Linked DNA regions of Homo sapiens. The protein of the gene in region 2 purifies or fractionates together with the protein of the main gene of each other region. This does not show direct contact. Each region holds a gene or a part of one and is shown on either strand. Other genes may lie near its edges.

Region 1 (5,633 bases), on a different chromosome or scaffold from region 2:
CTTCCATGTGCTGAATATGCCATTATTATTCCTATTAATAATTTCTGGCCGGACGTGGTGGCTCATGCCTGTAATCCCAGCACTTTGGGAGGCTGAGGCCAGCAGATCATCTGAGATCAGGAGTTTGAGACCAGCCTGGCCACGATGGTGAAACCCTGTCTCTACTAAAAATACAAAAAAAAAAAAAAATTAGCTGCTCATGCTGGTGGGGACCTGCAATCCCAGCTCCCTGGGAGGCTGAGGCTGGAGAATCGCTTGAACCCAGGAGGTGGAGGTTGCAGTGAGCCGAGATTGCAACACTGCACTCCAGCCTGGGTGACAGCACGAGACTGTCTCAAAAAAAAATAATAATAATTTCTAATTATTTCTAATCCTTCAAAAAATGCTATGGCACATATATCAGAGCTACCATTTTATAGATGAGAAAGCTGAGACCCAGAGAGGTTAAGTTACTTGCCAATATTAGACTGTAATAAATAGCAAAGCCAGGATTCAAGTTGAGGATCTGCATGGCTCCAAAGTCCTGTTTTTCTCGTACAAAATAACACGTTTTTATTTTTAAAGAAAAGATGAACTATGATTTTTAGACATCTAGACTCAGTTAAGATCACATTTGGCTGCAAGTAACTGACCCAAGTTCTGTGGTTTAACCAAGTAGAGATTTTATTTTTCTCACAGAGTCAAGAAATGGGTCCAGTAGAGCAGTTGCAGAATGCTATCAGCTTCTCAGCCTCCTTCTAACCTTCCACCCACTCATCCTTAACCCTCAAGCATCTTGTCTTTGGTCACGCGATGGCCTGCTTACTTTCTCCAGGGAAGAAGTACAAAGAGCAAAAGGCTTAACAGGCAAGCTCACAGAGGCTTCCCCTTTTAAGAGCTTTGGGGAACGGGGCATCCAGCTATTTACATCTCATCAGCCAGGACTACTGTCACTGAACCACCTCCCAGCTGCAAGGGATTCTGGGAAATCTAGCACTTAACTGGACATAGTGGTGAATTAAACAAAATGGGTTCAGTTACAGAAAAGGAGGGGGGAATGGATATCAGTTGGGCATCCAGCTGTGTCTTTCCCACATGAAGTGCAAGTCATCCTAGAGAATCAAATTCCCTTAGTAGAGAAAAACAATAAAAGAAACTTAATTCTGTGTTTAGTAGCTTTCTCAGTTATGCAAAGTCACACATTGATGGGGGTGGAGGATGGAAGGATCTGAAAGTTTGACAAAACCATCCAGGCAGCTGATCCAGAGGAAAAACACCGAGATTCAGGTGACTTCACACAAATGGCCCTGGCAAGATCACAGGTTCAACCAGTGTGTCTCCTGTGAGTCGTCACTGTTTCCCTTCCACCCTCTCACTTCCCAGAGTTAATTTCGAGAACCCACAGGTTCATTCGACTCTTCCATCATTCACAAGAAAAAGTAGATGTATTCAAATTCCAATGCAAACAAAAGAAAATTCTATACTGTGTTGTTATAAGAGGCAGCATCTTTAGAAAAAGATAACGGTTGCAAAGGCATTCTTTATGCAATAGCAGCCGCCCTGTCAAGTCACTAGATGAAAAAAGTAGACCACAGAGTTTCAACCTTGTTTTCATTTTTTCTAAATAAAGTAAATACAATAAACTTTCCTCATGAAAAACTTTTGCAATTCTGTGGTAGTAAGATAATATTTGTGTAGAGTACTATGGATGAAGAGAAGGATAACAAAGTGCCAGCAAAAGGACATCAGTGAGCTTGATCCTAGGCACGGAAATACAAGAAAACACAGGTACATTTAGTGATATGGTACAGTATTACTGCATACCATAAAAGAGTCCACACTCTTCCCAATGGGCCTACCTAGTTCTTCCCCAAAACTACCTTGCTGGCCTGAAGAATCTGGCCACTTCTTAAGAGTTCAGCTATTATTGCTAAAAGGAAAAATTAAAATTTGGCAACTTACTATTATTATTATTTTAGACAGAGTCTTGCTCTGTTGCCCAGGCTGGAGTGCAGTGGCGTGATCTCAGCTCACTGTAACCTCCGCCTCCCGGCTTCAAGCAATTCTCCTGCCTCAGCCTCCTGAGTAGCTGGGACTACAGGCATGCGCCACCACATTCGGCCAATTTTTGTATTTTTAGTAGAGACGGGGTTTTGCCATGTTGGCCAGGCTGGTCTCGAACTCCTGACCCCAAGTGATCCATCCACCTCAGCCTCCCAAAGTGCTGGGATTACAGGCATGAGCCATCGCGTCCAGCCTGGCCACTTCTTTAGGAATAGACTTGCCACTGAAAAAAGCCTTAGTACCTCTTTCACCAGGTGAAATGGAGTTTCACCTCTTAACAAAGACACACTAAGAATGAGCATACCTACTCTTCTGAACTTGTCTTTTCATGTCAAATGAATAATTTCCCTAAATTAAAGGAGAGGTGAAAATATCCAGGCCTATTGTGGAGTCCAGAGGGTGTCCATAAAATCTAGGGCCAGCCCCAAACGTGATGGTGGTACTTGATCTTCCTCCTACATGATCCATATTTAAGACATGACCCTTGGCCAGAATGACGGATACTCAGTGCAATTTGAGTTTATACAATTCCTTCAGGCATGGACATTGTTAGGTGCACCCCTGTACATAAAACCACTACATGATCTTTCTATTCTGAACTCATTACACTTGCCAACAAAAACAAGGATGTGTGTGTGGGCCAGTCAAAATGTGAGTCCCATCAAGTTCCAGGGAGAAGCATAACCAAAGAGCACTCACAAACTGTGACAACACATCCACTTGGACCACTCAGAGTCCAAACCCACCTTTCAGAAATAGACACTCTCCAGTGGGTTTAGACTGGTACGTATTTACCTCAGGTTCTCTCTCCTCCTCCCCCAAACTGCCTAAAAAGTGCGTAAACTTAAAACTCCTAGAAGAACCCATATTTCTTTTATCTAAAATCCAGTTGTCTGGTATGTTAGGTTTTTTTTTGAAGTGGAAAAAAAATGCTCACCACTTGGCTTCTGGAAACATTATCACTGAACACCAATTGAGCATCAGTAATTATTATATCTAAAATGAAGGGTGTAAAAGAAAGATTCTATGTATTTTGTAGGGTGGAATAATTCAGTTTAGTTTTAAATTTATGAGCTCCATTTAACGCAGCATCAATTTTTGCGGCAGTGACATATATGACAAAAGCTGTAGGGTTTTGTTTTGTTTTTTACTAGGAAGAAGGTTCTGACGTGCACTGCAATAAATTTGAAAAATAACTGACATAACACACTACTGATGCACTGAATTACAAGAGCCCAGAGCAGTTTTTGGACAGTTTGATAACTGATTTAATTGTGAAGTTATCCACCTTTGGTTGAACAGAAAATGCTGGCCAGAAGACATTTTGTTCCCTTTATTCACAAAGAATACCCTGCATAACCAGGCGTGGTGGCTCACTCCTATAATCCCAGCACTTTGGGAGGCTGAGGCAGACAGATCACCTGAGGTCAGGAGTTCGAGACCAGCCTGGCTAACATGGTGAAACCCCGTCTCTACTAAAAATACAAAAATTAGCCAGGCGTTGTGGTATACACCTGTAATCCTAGCTAACTGGGACCCTGAGGCATGAGAATCATTTGAACCCGGGAAGTGGAGGTTGCAGCGAGGCAAGATCACGCCACTGCACTCCAGCCCGGGCAACAGAGAGCGACTCTGTCTCAAAAACAAACAAACAAACAAAAAAGCAAAGAATACCCTGCATCAAAATGAGACAGTAACCCTAACAGCTTTGACTCGCATATTTAAATCCATCTGTTTGGCCACGGTTAAAAATAACAAAATAATCATGATAGTTATGATTATGGCTCCCTGAAAGATTTCACAACTGGCTGCTCAACTGTGATTTTTTTTTTTCTTAATTTTGGAGCTAATATGACTTTCTAAGGAAATCTCTGAAAATAAAAACGTCATTACGCAACATTTCTTGCCTATGTTTTCGCCTTGAAGCGACGTTTCTTTAATAAAGAATCAAGACACAGACCCAAACATGAATGAATATGCATTCATTAATTCACTCCTTCATCGTTTTGAAAAGGTAATTCAAACTAGGCCAGAGACACGTAATAACATCTTTGAAAAGACAGGCTGGGCACCCAGGGCTCACTCATGTAATCCTAGCACTTTGGGAGGTCAAGGTGGGTCGACTGCTTGAGCCCAGGAGTTCAAGACCAGCCTGAGCAACATGGTGAGAACCCGCCTCTACTAAAAATACAAAAATTAACCGGGCATGTTGGTGCATGACTGTAGTCCCAGGGAAGGCTGAGGTGGGAGGATCATTTGAACCTGGGAGGCAGAGGCTACAGTGAGCCGAGACTGCACCACTGCACTCCATCCAGGGCGGCAGAGCGAGACCCTGTCTCAAAAAAAAAAAGAAAAAAGAAAAGACAGAGTGCTGAATGAGGTCTTCTTTCAGTTAACAGTTTGAAAATTATGCTGGTTTGGGATATAAACGAAAAGTTAATTTTAATGTAACAAATTATCAACATAATCTAAATTTACTTATACAAATATTTTATGAATAGGAAAGGTTTTAAAAGAAGTCAGCTAGTCAGTAACTGAGGGGAAAAATGACCTTGTTCTGATTTATCTCACGGTGGAACAGGGAGCTACAAAAAGACTACATAAACAGTTAATTAACTGTCCCTCGGTGAACTTGTTCCCAAAAAAATGTCAGTGATGCCCTTGAAATTAGGCACTATTGATCTGGAACTTCAGTGTGTCCTGGATTTCAAATCAACATTTATCCATTAAGGCCAGATGACCTTAATTTTTATTTTATTTATTTATTTTTGAGATGGAGTTTTGCTCTAGTCGCCCAGGCTGGAGTGCAATAACGAGATCTCAGCTCACTGCAACCTCCGCCTCCTGGGTTCAAGCGATTCTCCTGCCTCAGCCTCCCAAGTAGCTGAGATTACAGGTGCCCACCACCACACCCGGCAATTTTTTTGTATTTTTAGTAGAAATGGGGTTTCACCATGTTAGCCAGGCTGGTCTCCAACTCCTGACCTCAGGTGATCTGCGTGCCTCAGCCTCCTAAAGTGCTTGGATTACAGGTGTGAGCCACCAAGCCTGGCCGACCTTAATTTTTAAAGTTGCTCTTGGAAATATGACAGTTGTTGGTCACAGGAATTTAACCAAAAACTGATCCTACCTTTCTCAATAACTCAAACATCTTTTAAGTATTCCGTGTTTTCCTACACCATATCTGCCTCATAAACATGGACTGAGAAAGAGAAATATTGGTTTAAATTAAGTATGTAAAATTACTGCTATTATTCAAACTGTGAATCAAATTTAGAGTTTTGGTATATTCAAGTCCCTAAACTAGGACTAGTTTCTTGGAAAGAAAGTGTAAATCTGAATTTGGCACATAAGGATAACATCCTAAAGATACTCTTCTTTACTGAACCGTCTGGCTTTTGCAGCCCCATCTTTTGGTATTACAAATGCAGTTGGAACACTATCAGCCAAGGAACACTACCGTGAGTTCACATTAGCCCACAGGAACTCCACTCCACAGCTCTATCCTACTGAAAAAGTACACTGGAAAATACAGTATGTTTTATGTACTCCCCATAGAACATAAATAGAAAAGACTTGTTCACCATTAT
Region 2 (6,070 bases):
CCCCAGTGCCAGGCCACCCGTTCTCTCCCTTGGGCTCTGCTCTGGAATTTTAAACACACAACCAACTGCTTCTCAAACCTTGGGCTGAGACCAGACTGGCCAGGCAGCGACAGTACCACAGCAAATCTTACTATAGGAAGAGGAAAGGAAAAAGGAGGACCTCCCCCCTTATGGCAGCAAAGTCCTTCCTCGTCTTGTGTACTGGAGGCCACGGGGGTACGAGATGACCTTGATGCTCACCACTGACCATTCTGGGCGTCAAGAATAGGAGTGGTTCTAGGGGCAAATTCTGGAAAGGTTTAAGAAAGCGGATCCATTTTTCCTTCTCCTTCAGCTCAGGGGATTCGCGTTCCCTTGTATGAAGAAAAACATGGTGAACAGGGTGAATTTTTACCCAGAAAGCTGAGCCTTCACATTCTCCCAAATGACCTCTTATTTTATGAAAACCTAGTGGCCACTTAAAAATACGCTCTTACCTAACGAGGAAGCAATGGCTTCAATTTGAGACTTCTCTAGGATCTCAACTTCAGTGCTTTTCACCTTAATTCTGCAGAGACAAAATCGACGTTACACACCACCAGCCAACGCCGCCAAGACATTTTCAAACATGTTTTCCTTTAGATAACAAAAGAATTATTTTCATTTTCCTCCTCAACCTTCCACTTAAACCAAAAGTCACAGCCAACTAGGAATTCATCTGCCTGAGGTTACAGGCAGCAAGAACCCTGGTGAATGGTTTTTTTTTTTTTTTCCTTTTAAGACAGAAAAGGTTGGCTGGATTTAAAAGCAAAAATGAATTCAAATTGTGACTTTTATGAAGCAAATCCTACTTTCAACTGCACAAATCACTCCTTTGTTAGATTTTCAGAGTAGATGGTAATGTCACTAAAAGCTGTTTACAGCCCAGCAGGTGTGTTTTGGTTTAAAAGGATGTGCTTTCCTTTTAAACTCGAGTATTCAATTACCTTCCCAGCCGCAGGGAAAGTGTGAGCTAGGGACCAAGCGAGCTTCAGAGGCAGCTCTGAAGATGCAGGCAGGAGGGAGTGGGGCAGGGGGAGCTCCACAAGGAAGAGCAACAGGGGAGCCAATGCCTTGGACTACGCGGGATCAGTCTCCTTGCTCTCTTCAGAACTGGGAATTCTCACGACAGATGCACCCTCGCCAATCACGCAGGACTGACCGGGGCGTCGGAATCGCCGTCATTCTAGATGATCTACACCTTCCCGGTGCCAGACGCGCCCTCGCCACAATCACGCAGGACTGACTGGGGCGTCGGAATTGCTGTCATTCTAGACAATCTACACCTTTCCCAGTGCCAGACACTCACGGAGCAGAACAATGTGCCGCCTGGTCATCAGTTATTTGCCTTTTGAACGTTAAACGCTGGTTTAGAGTGACAGGCTCAAAAACCAAATATTTCAAAATTGATGGGCCTGTCACAGACGTTTCTGAAAAAAGACACACAGATCTCTGGGAAGGAAACATCCCTATTTTCCTGGCATGGCACTGATTAAGAAACAGTCAAAAAAAAAAAAAAAAAAGGAAATATCCCTATTTTAACCACAAATAGGGTCTACCCTGAGTATAATTTACATGTATTCAGTGTTTGTACCAATCTCTCCATAGATCTCACAGAATGCCTCGTTTGGATCTTCAGCTTCCAAACTGACATAAAATCAAACTAGTTGCTTTCTCATGAGGTTATTATGAGCATTAATGAATTACACAAATGGTGAATAAGCCCATTAAGAGTGGGCTGGGCTTCAACTGTTTTGGGGGAGTAGGGGATTGAAGTATCAGAAATCTACACGGGAAAAAACAGTATTAAAACAACACAACACTTAACTTTTCCTCTAGAGAGAGGATTTGCACAGCTAGAAAATATTCCTTTCTTCTCTTATTTTTTGTTGAAGTCGCGGTTCGGGCCAAAACCTACATTTAAAACAAAAGAAAATCCTTGTTATTACAACAGCTGACAGTGAGAAACAGTGGCAAACTTTAGCACAAATGCAGCAGGTAATCCTGAAGGCCTATAACCATGGGATTTCAGATATTTGGTCCAATCCCCATTGTTTCACAGATGGGGAAACTGAGGCATGAGAGGCCAGTGGCAGACAAAGACAAGGACCTGGGCTTTTGCATTGCAGCTGAGCACTGTCTACTGAATTGCTGGAAAGCATTCCCTGAACACGACCATAATTTACTATCACAGGGCTGCTTGCCAGATCTTTCCTTGAGTTACAGCCTTACATGCCTTTTTACAGCTGATTCTTTTTTTTTTTTTAGTGTGAAAAAAAAAAGACATTTCTGGAAGTGTAACCTTGGAAGCACTAGACCAAAACCCCATTAAATGGGGAACGAGAATCAGTGCCAACCGTGTTCTGGCTCAATTATTTCACTGAAGCAAATCCTAGGTATCTCCTGATCAAGATTTTACTTGTCACCCGAAAGTCATTTCTAAGTCCTGAAGTTACAGAATAATGGCTGTCACCTTCGCAGGCCATAATCGCTTTTCCCATCGGCAGAGGACATACTTGGCATCCGCCATCATTTACACTCATGTGGCAAGTGGCAATGATTTGGCACAACGTACTCCCAGGTCTCACGCCAATGTGTCCTGGAACGAAATTTGCACGGTGGTTTATACAACTGTTTGCTGGCGATGTTAACGCAGACACAGCCCTCAGGGGCAAAGGTTAGCTCGACTTAGCCTCAAGTAGATGGTTTAATTCCACAATCTTGCATTGAGATGCTCAATGCCAAAAAGCAGACTGACAAACAGAAACGACGGGGCTCGGTATCCAGGGAGGCGCCTGCATTTTTTCATAAATAAAATACAGCACAGTCCCTCCCAAAGGTTCTATCTAGATCAGTTTTAAAAGGCTCCTGAATAAATCATCTCCGTGCGGAAGACCTGCCTCCGACCTCGGCAGGAGAGGCATTTTACACAATCAAAGCTCACAACCCTCCCCAATTTGGGGAGTTAACAGTTGACCACAGCACACACACAAAAATAAGAGCGGAAAAACGACTGCTCTTTTGGCTGCCATGTCCCTGAAAGAACGGGGACAGCTGCAGACCGTTCACAGCATCAATGGGAAGGACTGGCTTGGCTGTTGACAGAAATGAAAAGGAGGTTTGGGGGTGGGGGTGGAATTTAGCAACAACGGAGGGGGGCGTCCCCGCAGCAGGGAAGAGGAGGTTCCCAGCAGAGGTAGGGGTGGCGTTTCCAGCAAGAGAGGGGATCACAGCAGCAGCAGAAGTAGGGGTCCAGGCAGCAGGGACAAGATTTCATGGCGGAGGAAGGGTTGCGGCTTGCAGGAACGGGGGATTCAGGCAACAGAGAAGGGGGTCACAGCAGAAGCGGGGGGGCTCAGGGAGCAAGAACGAGGGCTCACGGAGGAGGTGGAGCGGAGGGTCCAGGTGGCAGGGATGGGGGATTTCACGGTTGGGGGTGGGGAATCCAGGGAAGCAGATGGGGGTCCAGGCAAGAGATGGGGTTCACGGCAGACGTGAGGGGGATCCAGGGAAGGAGATAGGGGTCCAGGCAGCAAGGATGGGGGAGCGGGTCCAAGCAAGAGATGGGGTCCGGGCGGCAGGGACGGGAAAAGGAGTCCAGGCAAAGTGAGGGGCCCACGGCGCCAGGGGCGGAAAAGGGGGTCCGGGCAGAGTGGGGGACCCACGGCGGTAGGGACCGGGCGCTCCCGGAGGAGTCTCTAGGCCGGGGCCCCCCCTCCCCCCAGGCCCGGCCTCCTCGCCTCAGCCCCGCCCGGCGGAACCGAGGGGACGCATCCCGCGGGCTCACCGGGCCCCCGGCTTTCCCCAGCGCGGCGCCCCAAGCCCGGGCAAGGAGGCCGCAGCGGCCGCAACAGCGGAGGACCCGCCCGCCAACCGCTGCCGTCCGCGCCGCCCGCGCTCACCGCCTCCGCCACCGCCGCCGCCGCCGCCGCCGCCGCTCCCCGCGGGGCCGGGGGCGGGGCTTGCCTCGCGGCGGCGCCAAGCTCCGCCCCCTTCCGCCCGCTGCCCAATGGGACGCGCGCGCTCCCAAGGAGCGCCGGCCTCGCCCTCTCCGGCGTCCACGGCCGCGCGCCGGCCCCGCCCCTTCCGCCGCGCGTCTACCCCTTTTTCCCGGGAGTGCTGCCTGAGGAGACCGGTTGGCGGGGCATGTGTGGCCGCTCCCGGGCGCCGCCCTCCCGCGCTCCCGGCCCTTTGTCCTGCAGTCAGACCCCGGACACCGCCCTCGCGGGTCTCGGTGGGAAAACAGGCTCCCCCGCCCGCGGCGATCCCTGAGAGAACCTTCCAGAACTTTCGAGAATCTTCCAGGTCCTACGGCACCTCCCAGCCCGGGAGCTGCGCGCCACGGACCCAATTCCAGCAGATCCCAACCGATCCCAAAGCCAGGCATCCCCGCAAAGGCGTCATAAGCTTCTGAACTAGAGCAGGACCCACCTTGGGAGGGTCCCAAGACCCCGGGGGGCACCGGAAACAGCCGCGGGTGGCGGGAGCCCCGGAGCGGTCGCTCCATCAGTGTCAGGCCTTTCCCTGAGCGGTTTTTGATTTTTTTTCAGACGGAGTCTCGCTCTGTCACCCAGGCTGGAGTGCAGTGGCGCGAGCTCAGCTCACTGCAGCCTCCTCCTGCTGGGATTACAGGTGCGCGCCACCCCACCCGGCTAATTTTTGTATTTTTAGTAGAGAATACTAAATGTTGATCAGGCTGCTCTCAAGCTCCTGACCTCAGGTGATCGGCCTGCCTCGGCCTCCCAAAGTATTGGGATTACAGGCCTGAGCCACCTCGCCAGCCCCCACAGTTCTTTAAAAGCAAAGGAGGCCGAATTGGCAGATCCTTTAAGCCCAAGGATTGGAGACCAGCCTGGGCAACATGGCGAGACCCCATCTCTATAAAAAAGATACAGGCTCACTCCTGTAATCCCAGCAGGAGGCCGAGGCGGGCAGATCACATGAGGTCAGGAGATCGAGACCAGCATTGCCAACATGGTGAAACCCCGTCTTTACTACAAATAGAAAAATTAGCCGGGCGTGGTGGCGATGCCTGTAATCCCAACTATTCAGGAGGCTGAGGCAGGAGAATCGCTTGAACCCGGGAGGCGGAACTTGCAGTAAGGGGAGATCGCGCCACTGCACTCCAGCCTGGGCAACAGAGTGGGACTTCGTCTCAAAAAAGGAAAAAATTAAAAGACTTACAGCAGCATTCGTCACGCACTGGCCCCGACTCTTCAAGGGGAAGGGGCGACAGCAAAGCCGGCTCTAACTTCTTTTTCCTTCTCACATTTGCGGGAATAGAAGGTTTGTGTCTTCGGTCGATCCCAGCAACCTCAGCGACTGATTTTTTTTCCTTTATCAAGTTGAGAATGTTCACCTTTCACTTGTTTTTTATTTTTATTTACATTTTTGAGTCGAAGTTTGGCTCTGTGGCCCAGGCTGGAGTGCAGCGGCCCAGTCATAGCTCACTGCAGCCTCAACCTCCCAGGCTCAAATGATCCTTCCACCTTAGCCTCCGGAGTAGCTGGGACCACAGTGCGCACCACCATGGCTGGCTAAGATTTTTATTTTTTGTAGAGAGAGGGTCTTGCTATGCTGGCCAGGCTGGTTTCGACCTTTTGGGCTCAAGTGATCCTCCCACCTCGGCTCCCCAAAGTGCTGGGATCACAGGTAGGATCCACCTTGCTCAGCCGTCTCAGTTTGTCTATAAAATGGGGGTGGTGGTCTGTGGGTGGTTGGCAAGAACTATGTCTCTGATATCCTCTCACGTTAAATCTGAGCTGGCGGTGGCTCAGGCCTGTAATCCCAGCACTTTGGGAGGTCAAGGCAGACATATCGCCTGAGGTCAGGAGTTCGAGACCAGCCTGGCCAATATAGAGAAACCCCCATCGCTACTAAAAATACAAAAATTGGCTGAGCGTGGTAGTGTGCACCTGTAATCCCAGCTATTTGGGAGGCTGAGGCAAGAAAATCTCTTGAACCCAGGAGGCGGAGGTTGCAGTGAGCTGAGATCGCGTCAGTGTACTCCAATGTGGGTGACAGAGCAAGACTGACTCTGTCTCAAAAAGAA
Region 3 (5,633 bases), on a different chromosome or scaffold from region 2:
CCTGGGTTCAAGTGATCCTTCTGCCTTGGCCTTCCAAAGTGCTGGGATTACAAGTGTTAGCCACCACATCTGGCCAATATGTGCAGTCTTGAATAAGACAATTACCATGTCAGAGACTGCTCTCACAAAGGAAGCAGAATTACATCAAATGATAGACATTCCAGAACTGCAGCTCTAAGTTCAATAGCAGCCTATTTCTCATTCAGGTGATCTTTACTGAATAAAGACTTTAAAAATTGTTTTACAGTATCTAGCACAAAAATAAGTATAACAGAATAAACAACTGCTTTAGACATTGCTATTATAGTATATATTCAGCATTCATACAATTTTAACTATATTAATATGTGTAATCAAAAATACCTTACCTTGTTCTGCCCTGTGAAAGTAGCCTAAGGCCTGTCAAAAACACAAAGAGCCCAAACATAATAAAAAAGATTAAAGAAGACAATATTAAAAAAGCATTGTCTCAAAGATCTACTGCTATATTATATTTAAGTCAGGAAGTAAATCATCTTAAAATAATGGTCACTTCTTCAACAGTGAGAGTTAACACCCAAAGTGAACGTAACACTTCAATCATCAAGATTACAATATATGGACTACTTCTGGTAATAACTTGGTTGCTGTTTAGAACTTGTACCAAACTAACATCATGTGCAGAAAGGAAAGAACATTATCACGTGTAACTCAGCTATTTTGACAGTTCTCTTAAATCATAACTAGTGATTTTTAGTAAAAACAAAATATAATCAAAAGCTGAATTTATTCGTTGTACTAGTGAATTTTTAAGAGTCCATTATTATTGAAATTCCTACATACAATGTTAAGTCTGAAACTCTTTTTGTCCTACTTAAGCTACTGTTTTTGTAATGCATTCTCTAATGACATTTGATTTCTAGAAACATAACTAATTTGATAAAGTAGAGCTGACTATATTTTTTGTCCTTAAAATGACCTGTCTTAAAAAAAAAAAAAAAGAACCAGGTCTCACTCTGTTGCCCAGGCTGGAATGCTGTAGCGCAATCACTGTTTATTGCAGCCTTGACCTCCCAGGCTCAAGTGATCCTTCTCCCTCAGCTTAGCTGAGTGACTGGGACTACAGGCACAGGCCACCACACCTGGCTAATTTTTGTATTTTTTTTGCAGAGGTTTTGCCACGTTGCCCAGGCTGGTCTCAAACTCCCAGGCTCAACTGATCCACCAACCTTGGCCTTCCAAAATGCTGGCATTACAGGCATGAGCCACCGTGTCCAGCAAATGGGCATTATTTTAATAATACCATTATAAAATATTGGTGCATTATTTTAATAATATTTCTCAACTGTGTGTAAAGAATACAACTAAGTATTTTTTACATCAATTTCTACACTATAGCTTCCCAGAAAGAAAAAAAAGCTCCTTGTTATAATGTAAATAATACAAGTACAGCTTTTTCGATTGCCTGTTTTCTTACTCTGAAAAGCTTGTGATGAGTAAACCCAAAGTTTAACCAGAAATTCCTCTCAAATCTTATTTTTAACAAGAAAAGCAAAAGGCCTTGAAAATATGAGAGAATATGAACCTTTCATATGCTTTTTAAAATAGAAGTTATAATGAGTGTTCTTCTTTTATCAACTTAAGCATCTGCTTTACTTTTCTGTTATTGTGTGTAATACAGCTAAAACATGCTGGGTAACAGATGCTGTATTTCTTGTTCTATTTTATGACTTCAATATAGTTTAGATTTCAAACAGAAAATGAAGGTAGATTTTAGCCACGAGCCATTTTAGATGACAGTATTCCAGAATTACCAGCCACTCACCTAACGGGGAAAAAGAAAACCACTCACCAGTCAAGGATAATAAGTGTTAAGCCTTGTGATAACACAGTTGAATTGGATCATTAGAAATTGCTCAAGTCCCTCACTGAATCAGAGCTCCACATGTGTGAACACATGGTAGAATGGCGCTGTGGTTAAGAAATCCGTACTAACTTAACAAAGGACATCATACTACCTTCTCATAGGTGGAACTAGGAGGAGTTGCAAACAGCATTTTAGCAATTCTTCTTTGATACCAAGGCATTTCGGCAAATGTATAGCACCTACAGGGAAATAAAACAATTTTATACATTCAAATTGTACCTTCTTTTCTCTTAAAGTTAACTAAGCATCTTAATACTATAAAAGGAATCTTCTACTGTATGTTTAAACAACTTGTGCTTTACATGATATCTACTAGGTAATCCAGAGATTGACATAGTGATCCTTTAGCTGGGGGGTGTATTTTGTGATTAAATATAAATAGTAAGCAGTCATACTAATAACAGTAATATAATATACATCTACCACTGAGTGCATTGTGCCAGGTAGTGGGTTGATTCTCTCATTTATTCCTTGTAACAATTATATATGAGATAGGATAATTTCCCCTATTTTTCTTATAAGAAAAACTCAGAGAAGTTAAACCTTACACAAGAAAAATGACAAAGCTAAACATCAAATGTATAAATAACAGCAACCAACAACTTAAATCTATTTTTAAAGCAGCAAAGCAAATGATTAACCTCCAAAGATCTTTACAACTTTCAGAAATAAGTAGGAAAGAAAGTGTTGCATCTTTGACTAGGGTCTGAAGTCCTTAAGGCAGAAATTGCTATTTCATTTGGGTTTGCTTACTAGCATCTGACTTAGTGACTGCCCCTCAATTATCATTAATCCTCAGTGAATGAGTGTTAGCTTAATATGTCCTTTATCCTGAAGAATATATTTCTCTTTTAAAAGAGTTTGATACAGGACAGTTTACACTGGTACCCTTCTTAGATGGCAGTAAATATTCAGCTCTGCAGGCTATACTCAAAAGAGTGTCCCATCTATCTCAAAACAGACTCTTAAACCATCAAGTACGTAACACTTTGATAAAGCCTCATACCAGCAAAATAATAATCTACAGTGGACATAAGATCACATAAAAATAGAAAGATACTGAAAATCAGATTATATGGTTCCTCAGATTAATCAAGACTGTATCTGACACACTTTGAAGATACAAAGACCCTCTTGGGGCATTCTACTGTTTTACTATAGTTACATTAATCTAATTTCATTTAGCATGGTAAATAAGAATAGTCTTTTCAGTCTGTACATGTTTCTAAATGACCTGAATAACAATGTTTAACATGGTCATAATCAAATTTAGTATGTTCTAACAATATATATACAAGGGCTAGTTAATGGATTTAGCACTCTAAGCTCTGTCAGATAATATTTTAAAATATTTAATATCTTTTATATATGCAAAAGAAGATATTTATACATACTACAAAATATCACACTAAATACTACTGAAATATTTAAAGAAATTTTCTTACCAAATACCCATAAGGTGAATTGAAGTAGCATCTTTAGGGTTCAGTTCAATTGCTTTCTAACAAGAAATGAGAAAAATAAATCATATTTGTTTTCTAAACACCAATAAGTGCTTTACTGTGTTTGCTGAAGAAGCCATGATTTTTTAAAAAATGCAACTGTGTGTTTCAGTTCTCCCATTATAATATCAACTTTCTTCCTCCTGATTCTTTGATTAAATTCATTTCAAAACACTATTAATGACTTATACTAATGTTACTATTTTGTATGGTTCAGACATTTATAGTAAGTGTCTATCAAGATGAGAAAAAACATGAAATACATAAATGGATTAATTTTGCAAATTAATCTTGCAAATTAATCTATAGCTCTTAATGTTTCTTCCAAATTAAAGGAAAAATGGATAAGGAAGTACTTTCTTGGCAAACTGTAGATGAATACTGAATAAAAGTCATTCTTTCCTAAAGAAGAAAAGTGCATTTTAGTTTTTTAGAAAAAATGTAATTTTAGAAAGTCTCTTCTATGCAGATTTTAGAAAGTCTTTTCTATTTTTAGAAAGTCTTCTTGTATGCAGATTTTGTTCAACTTCCCCATCTGTACTTACCAAAGGAAAAATAAACAGTTTATAGAATATTAATAGAATAATTATGTGCAATGTAAAATATGTTGAATCTCCCTAATTTATATTTACTATGTGAATATAAACTACAGAATAAAGAAACTGTTCCTCCTTTTATCCATTATTTTGTTGAAAACAACTAAAGAAATCTTACAGATTAATGTTCATATTAAAAGGACTCTTTTTGAAAAAATTAAGATTTCCTAGTTTATGCTTTTCTATAAACCCACACTTTTGCTTTCAGTTTAGTAATGTGTGAGGTACACATTTTCAAATATTTGTAATGGTTAAGAGCATGGTCTCTGAAACCAGACTGCCAGGATTCAAGTCACAGCTTAATGACCTTGAACTGGTTGCAAGATCTATATTCTTACCACAACTGAGTTTTTTCTCTTTTATGGAAAAGTCATGTACTTAACTCATAAGGTTGTGGTAAAAAATAAATAAGTATCTTAACATGTTTATATGCAACTTATGCTCTAAGCAACCTTTCTCAATTGGGAGTTCCACTAAAAATTAAGCCCTACAAAAAAATTGTGTAAGTAACTATTTTTTTCTATTTCCTAAGAATGATACAGAAATACTGTAGTCCCATTCTAGATGCATAGGAAGGAAGTTAATTCATCACAATGGATGCCTGGGGGGATCAGGGTTTAATTAATTTTCCTTTTTTTTTTTTTTTTTTTTTGCCTTTGCCAAAATAAGGTTTTATTTTGAAAGTCATTTGAAAAACACTGAGGAAGGAAGGAGAAGACCTAAGACCCAATGGATGTAGGTTCCAAATTTGGATTCTTGCTGGCCCCACCAATGGTCTCTGTCAGGCCAAGAAGGTTCTGCTTTCTTTGGTAATTCCTATTTTTTTAGCTTCCTGGAGAAGAGATCTTTTCCCACAAGCCATCTTCATTTTTTTTGTAGAGTAGGGCTTTATTTCCAGGAAACAGTGTGTTAGTTGGAGCAGTATTTTTTTTTAAAAACATCAAGGTAGATCTAATATGTTCAACAAAGTGGGGTGGCTCGGCCAGACACGAAGTGGAAAGATTCTCTAGTATTTGCTTGTCATCTTGCTGCAAGCAGAAATCCACATGTGGAAATGGTGTCCAGGAGTACAGTCCTATACGAAGTTGTTCTGTCTTTGCATCGTAAATGCTAATCACTGGTCCTCCTGCTAAAGCTCACGCGGCACGCAGCTGCTCCTCTGGACCTCGATCTTGAAAGGAGGCTCTGTAGGCCAGGCACGGTGGCTTATGCCTGTAATCTCAGCATTTTGGGAGGCTGAGGTGGGCAGATCACTTGAGGTCAGGAGTTTGAGACCAGCCTGGCCAACATGGTGAAACGCTGTCTCTACTAAAAATATAAAAATTAGCCAGGTGTGGCAGTGGGCGCCTGTAATCCCAGCTACTTGGGAGGCTGAGGCAGGAGAATCACTTGAACCCTGGAAGCAGAGGCTGCAGTAAGCCGAGATCACACCACTGCACCCCAGCCTGGGCAACAGAGGAGACTCTGTCTCAAACAAAAAAAAGAAAGGAGGCTCTGTAAATCTTTGCAGTCTTAAGTTGACAGCAATGCCATATATTATTAGAAAGTGTTATTCGTTTTCTTCCTGGTCATTTAATTCTGTCACACATAATCATAGTATCACTAAGTGAATGTCATCTTCTTGCCTGT
Region 4 (5,633 bases), on a different chromosome or scaffold from region 2:
GAGGATGTGTTGGTTTTGATAGAAGAGAAGCTACAAATAGATTATTTTCAAAATCAGGATCCCCCCCACCCCCGTTTATGCTGTGAGTCCCTTCTTCCTGTAAAAAAAAAAGTGGATACTCTCTTCTCGGATCCCCGTTTATGGCTCCACTGCCCAGATGGGAGGCTCCCGGAGGAGGCCCAGGGTGCCAGAGCCTGCCAGACTCTGTTGTGCCTGAGCTGGGGAAGGGACCCTGTCTCGGGAAGAGCAAAGTTCTATGAGTGACTTACAGACCCTGTGAAGTGAGGGTTGGTTTTGTGATTAACCTTTTTCTGTTTTTCTTTTTAAAATGTAATTGCCCTTGAATGCGAGACCCTGGGAAGAGCCCTGGGCTGGCTGGTAGAGATGCAGCCCTCGGACCCTGCAGGAGCCGGCCCACACTGGAGGCGGGAGAGCTGGTGGCCGTGCCCAGGAAGTGCTTCTTTGGCTGGTTCTGATTGTGTTTGGAGTTTGGCCTTGGGTGAGGCCCGAGCAAGGGGTCTGTGGCTACAGCGTGGCACGTGGCATGCGGGCAGCGTGCATGCGAGGGTGCAGGCATGCGAGACGACATTGGCAGCAGACAAAAATAAAGAACCCTGGACGAAGCTTAAGAGGAGATACAGAGAGTACACGAACCCGGTCCTCATACTAACCCACGGGTTACAAACTCGGTTGTGCTGTAGATTTGTAGAAAATCGTGTTGTGAAAGAATGGCACTGGTTAGGCAGCTGGAGGCTCCTGGGGCGGGCCTGACTCCTCTGTCCACAGTGAGGCCCAGAGGCGCAGAGCAGCGCAGCTTCCAGGTTCCCGGGCACTGACTGTGGCTCCCTCCCTGTCCCTGCCCTCCTCCCCCAAGCACCGGGCACTCGATGGAGGGGACATGGCCCAGGGATGGGCTGCAGCTGCAAGGGCTGGCAGAGGCCCCGCTGCTCCGGACGGTCTATGCCTCCTCCTCCCCCGAAGACACCATCAGTCGCATGGCTACTGGCAGGTGGTCCGTCAGGCCGGACAGCTGGGTGATAAAACTGAATTCTTCCACCTCCTGGGGTGAGTGGGAGAGGGGAGAAACAGCCTGGTCAGATTCCAAGGGCATCTTGCAGGGAGCGGCCTGGGGATCCCCAAAGTGAGGCCCCGGGGCTGGGGTGGGCTGGGACCTTCCTGCAGTCAGAGGGATGGGGCCTGGAGGACCTGGGGCCCTAAGGGTCTGAGGGAGTGATGGGTATCATTGTAAGAGTGGCCTGGGGCGTGGGGTTTCAGGGAGCGGCTGTCGAGAGCTGCAGGGCCCGGGCCCTGCTCTCTCTTTGCATGGCCCTGGCTGCTGGGCCCTCCTGACTCACGGCCTTCCAGTCTGGGCACAGCCCCTCCTCTGCATGCAGCATGTAGTCGATGCGCCGGCCGTTGCCCTTCAGCAGCTCCTTCCGCCCCTTCTGGCCCGAGCTCTTGCTGGTGGGAAACGCCAGGTACTCCCTGCGGCCCTCCTCACTCTCCAGGACCCTGTCCACACATGCAGGAGGCAGGTGGGCCCCCATGCCCGCCCCTGTGGGCCTGGCAGGGGCTGTGTGTGGAGCCATGGTCTCCTCCCAGTGTGGGAGCGGGTGGGTGGGACCAAAGCGCTGGGTTTAAGATCTCTCCCCTGCGGGTCCAAAAAGGGCCTCAGCTGGGGGTAGGCCGAGTTGCCTGTGGGTTCCTGGCTGAATCTGGGCTCCGGAGCCCGTCGAAGTGTTCTGTCCGCCCCAGCCTGGCCAGCACTCACTTTCCCTTTCTGAACTCGGACAGAACTGATCCCACCCGTTCCCCAGAATGGGCTTCTGCCCTGAGCCAACAGGGGCCTGTTTTGAGGAGCTTGGTCTTTGCCATGAGTCTCGGGGACCCTTGTGACTGTTCCCAGGTTGACAGGAGCTGAGGGAGCCAGGAGAGCACCTCTGAGGAGTCTCAAATGGGGCTGTCCCTACGTGGCTGTGTGACTCTGCTTATGTTACCAAGCCTCCAAGCCTCTGTTTCCTCCTCTGAAACAAGAATGGTTGCTGTGGGCCCCAAGACGCTTCAGGGAACAGGCTGTCATCCCGCTTCTGAGTGAGGAAACCCATGATGGTGCTAGGGGATCCACAGGGAGGGCAGGGCGCTGGAGCAGGGGGATGTGACATCTGGAATCCCTTTCTGGCACTGTTGCCCTGAGACAAGCAGTATGCCCGTCTGCTTCCTGCCAGCCTGTCCCCTGGGGCCTCAGCACCACTGGGCCAGAGGCTTAGGACCCCCTCCTGGGAGCCCCCATTGCAGAGGGCAGGCTGGGGCCAGGGCCTGGGATGGCAAGTGCAGTGGTGAGAGACCCTGCAAAGGCCGCCAGGTCTGTGAGTGCCTGGACGGATGCAAAAGGGGCACCCGGCGAGGCAGGGCCTGCAAACATGGGCTTCCACAAGGTTTTCATCAGCCTTAAGATAAATACACTAATGACATTCAGGACATTGTTACAGCTCAGAAATGGAATCCATCACTGTCCTTTGCCCTTGATAATTAATTCCAGCATCAATGATCTGAGAGCTACTGGTAGTCATTTTTAAATCATCATCTCATAAAAAGAATTTTCTCAGCATAGGATGATGTTTCAAATTTAGTCTATAATCTAATTAATTGGCTCAAATTAGCTGCAAGGAACCATCGCTGTGACTGCAGTCTCGGGCTGTGAATTATAAATTGGTTCTGCTGTTGGCCTCTCAGATGTGTTCTTTATGGACATCTTACTGGGCTCAAGAATGAATTTTGGCTGGGATGGAACTGTCTCTACTTTGAAAATGGTCGGCTGTGTTATTGCAGCTGGTGTCTGTATTTGCCTGATTGGTGCTGCAAGCTGCCAGGCTGCCTTCAGCAGGCGCCGTACCCAGCAGCTCTTTCATGGGGGTCGACCTGTGGCCTGGCCCGGGGGAAATTCCAGGCCCTTTCCTGTACCCAGCAGGCAGGGGCTCGGGGCAGGGCTAGCTCCTGAAAACAGGTTTGGGAAATACCCCTAGAGATTTAGCAAGGCCAGTACCCCTGGGCGTGAGGGCGTGAGGTCTACCTGCCTGGCCCAGCTCCCAGCTCTCAAAAGCTCTCAAAGGTGAGATGAGGGACAGGTTTCTGCCAAATAAAAGCCCTCATGAGCCCGAGCTGAGCTCTCCCATGTGGGTCCTGCCCAGTCCCTGTCTCCACCTTAGTCAGGGTGTGCCTCGTCCCTGGCCTGGGAGCGCAGTGCTTACTTCTGCAGGTTGTCGGGGGTGCACACATCCTCATCGTACAGGCCGTTCGTGTCCAGCAGAGTACCTGGGGGGGACGAGGGGGTGACAGTGGTCGCTGCAGGCAGGGCCCAGGCAGCCTCTAGGGGGTGGCCTCTGTGGGTGGACACGGGCTTCTGCTAGCCAGGGGCAGCTGAATGGGGCCCTTCCCCAGCAGTGGGGTCTTGTGGGGTAGGTCCTGGTGATCTTTGAGGGAAGTCTGTGGGGAGCCCAGCTCCCATCCTCCTCCCCCAGCCCCAGCTCACCGATGGCCCACGGCTTCTCCTCACCAGGCCCCAGGCGGCAGGGGTCCCTGTAGTGGGTGAACAGGGAGTGTTGCTGCTCCAGCTTGTCGTCTGTGCGGGGAGGGAGGAAACGCTGAGGCACCAGGGGGCTTTGCTGTCCCACACGGCCTGTGCCCCTGCTTCCCATCAGTTACTCCCCATGTGCTGCCAGGCCCCCATCCCTTAGGCCACTGCCCCTGGGTGGGATCTCAGTCCCATTCAGGTGCCCCGTGCTTCATTTGTCGCTGCTTTTCTGTGTCCTTGAGAACACCTCCCCCAGCACACGCCCTGATCTTCAGCATTCCCTCTGAGGACAGTGACAGTGACCACGGTCCTCGGACAGAGGAAGGAAGGTCCCCACAAGGTCCATGTGGTCATCGGATCCACAGATCAGTTATTTACAGCAAGTGTTTGCTGTTTCACTGATGACGAGCTTGTAGTCTTTCACCCTAATGGTTTAAGGTGCAATTCCCAGGGTTCAGATCCCAGTGCAATCACTGCCTGGCTATGTGACCTTGGGCTGGTTCTCCAGCCTCTCTGAGTCTCAGCTTCCTCCACCACACCACGTGGAGACATGCAATGCTTCCCTCTCAGGGTTGTTAAGACACTTAAGTGAAACAGCGATAGAATGGCAGCTGGCTCGAAGCAAGAGCGCGGCGCCCCGTTGATGGGTGTTACTAGTGGACTCGTCCTTTGTCTGCTTCAGAGGCCCCCAGCCTTCCTTGTCAGAGGTTCGTTTTTAGGGCATCTCTGTCTCCAGCTTTCTAGGCAGAGCGTGGGCTCTTCCTGTTCTAGGATTTCTAGGGGGCAGAGAAATCAGTCTTGCTAAATACCCCGCCCACATGCTCTCGAGGAGCAGGAATTCTTTGAGCTGCCTAACGAAGTCTGTCTAGCTGTGACTGAGCCCACAGCCTCCCCAGAGCTGGAGACCTGAGTGGGGAGGAGCCCGGCCTCACCAGAGGAGCAGTTATCAAAGTTGAAATCTCCACAGACGACGTCAAATGCCACCAGCTCCTCGGGGTTGGCTGCGCTGGACGAGGAGGTAGATTTTCGGAAATCAGCCAGCCAGTCCTGAAGCAGGTCCAGCTGCCCACACCGGATGGCGCTGTCCTCTGCAGGGCAGAAGTACAGAGACTGGATGATGAAGTTCGCCCCAGACCCCAGCTAGGCCCCAGGCACTGATCCCATGCCTAGAAAAAACACAGGTGGGCGGCAACCCTACCTTGCGGGGCATGCAGGTGTGTGCAGGCGATGTACCCGACGATTCTTTGGTCCTGAGGTGTGCTTCCCACCTGCACCTGGGGGAGGAGGGGGTCAGTGCTGCCACCTGCCAGTCACTGTGGCCCTGAGAGCACAGGACACTGGCAGTGCCCACCCACCCATGAGGTCAGACCCTCACAAGCCTGGCTCCTGGCTGGATTCTGGGGTCCGAGTAGGGACAGGATGTGTCCTGCTTCTAGGGACTTACGGATCTGGGCCAGAGGCGGGTGCTGAAAGAAACTATTGGCCTGTGGCGTGGGGAGTGCTGGCGGCCATCTGTGCAAAGCATGGGGGAAGTGCCGAACCGCAGCAAGGCTCCCCGGAGGCCCAGGCCCTGCCATCTCCCAGTGACCAGCGTGGCCACGGCTCTCAGTTCCTTGTCCAGTCCTGTCTGTGGCTCTTTCCTCCCTCCCTCAGTTACACCCTAGACCTGGTCACACCCTGGTGCTTTCTCCCCCTGAAATCTCAGGGGGTTGCCCCTGTGCCATGGCGTGGCCTCAGAGCCCACCCCACACAGCAAGAGGCCCAGACCCTGCCCCTCCTGGCCTCGTCGCCTTCTGGCTGCATGGTGAGTCATCTGCTTTATAGGCCGTGGTCCCGTTGTCACCCGTCTTGGATGAGAGCTCCCTGACCTGTGTCCTAGGCTGGCCCCTGCACACCCCTGGCTCCATCCTGAGCCCACTGTGGCAGCATCCTCTTCAGGTCTCCCCTCTGCCCCGACCTCCTGCTTACCTCCTTTACCCAAGACGGAGCAGGTGACCCTGGCAGGATCCCAAAGGCTGGCTTAATACAAATTAGCATCTCCACTGTACCCTGCAGGCAATTC

Evidence for each region.
Region 1: the proteins of PWWP3A (region 2) and PPFIBP1 purify together in Homo sapiens (affinity purification with mass spectrometry; one large-scale study listed by BioGRID and IntAct). This does not show direct contact.
Region 3: the proteins of PWWP3A (region 2) and RMDN1 purify together in Homo sapiens (affinity purification with mass spectrometry; one large-scale study listed by BioGRID and IntAct). This does not show direct contact.
Region 4: the proteins of PWWP3A (region 2) and SMPD3 purify together in Homo sapiens (affinity purification with mass spectrometry; one large-scale study listed by BioGRID and IntAct). This does not show direct contact.

What each region holds. Positions count from the first base shown.
Region 1 is NC_000012.12:27,526,016-27,531,648, reverse strand, and holds part of PPFIBP1 (liprin-beta-1), read right to left. Parts: intron 1-5,633. UniProt on the Homo sapiens protein: May regulate the disassembly of focal adhesions. Did not bind receptor-like tyrosine phosphatases type 2A.
Region 2 is NC_000019.10:1,352,871-1,358,940, reverse strand, and holds the start of PWWP3A (PWWP domain-containing DNA repair factor 3A), read right to left. Parts: upstream 3,983-6,070; 5' UTR 3,806-3,982; intron 2,618-3,805; 5' UTR 2,549-2,617; coding exon 2,492-2,548; intron 1,933-2,491; coding exon 1,847-1,932; intron 1,523-1,846; exon of another isoform or gene 966-1,522; intron 548-965; coding exon 477-547; intron 354-476; coding exon of another isoform or gene 331-353; exon of another isoform or gene 290-330; coding exon of another isoform or gene 237-289; exon of another isoform or gene 1-236. UniProt on the Homo sapiens protein: Involved in the DNA damage response pathway by contributing to the maintenance of chromatin architecture.
Region 3 is NC_000008.11:86,476,926-86,482,558, forward strand, and holds part of RMDN1 (regulator of microtubule dynamics protein 1), read right to left. Parts: intron 3,408-5,633; coding exon 3,352-3,407; intron 2,086-3,351; coding exon 1,998-2,085; intron 400-1,997; coding exon 369-399; intron 1-368.
Region 4 is NC_000016.10:68,360,248-68,365,880, forward strand, and holds part of SMPD3 (sphingomyelin phosphodiesterase 3), read right to left. Parts: intron 4,846-5,633; coding exon 4,770-4,845; intron 4,660-4,769; coding exon 4,504-4,659; intron 3,620-4,503; coding exon 3,530-3,619; intron 3,313-3,529; coding exon 3,249-3,312; intron 1,513-3,248; coding exon 1,356-1,512; intron 1,061-1,355; coding exon 959-1,060; 3' UTR 1-958. UniProt on the Homo sapiens protein: Catalyzes the hydrolysis of sphingomyelin to form ceramide and phosphocholine. Ceramide mediates numerous cellular functions, such as apoptosis and growth arrest, and is capable of regulating these 2 cellular events independently.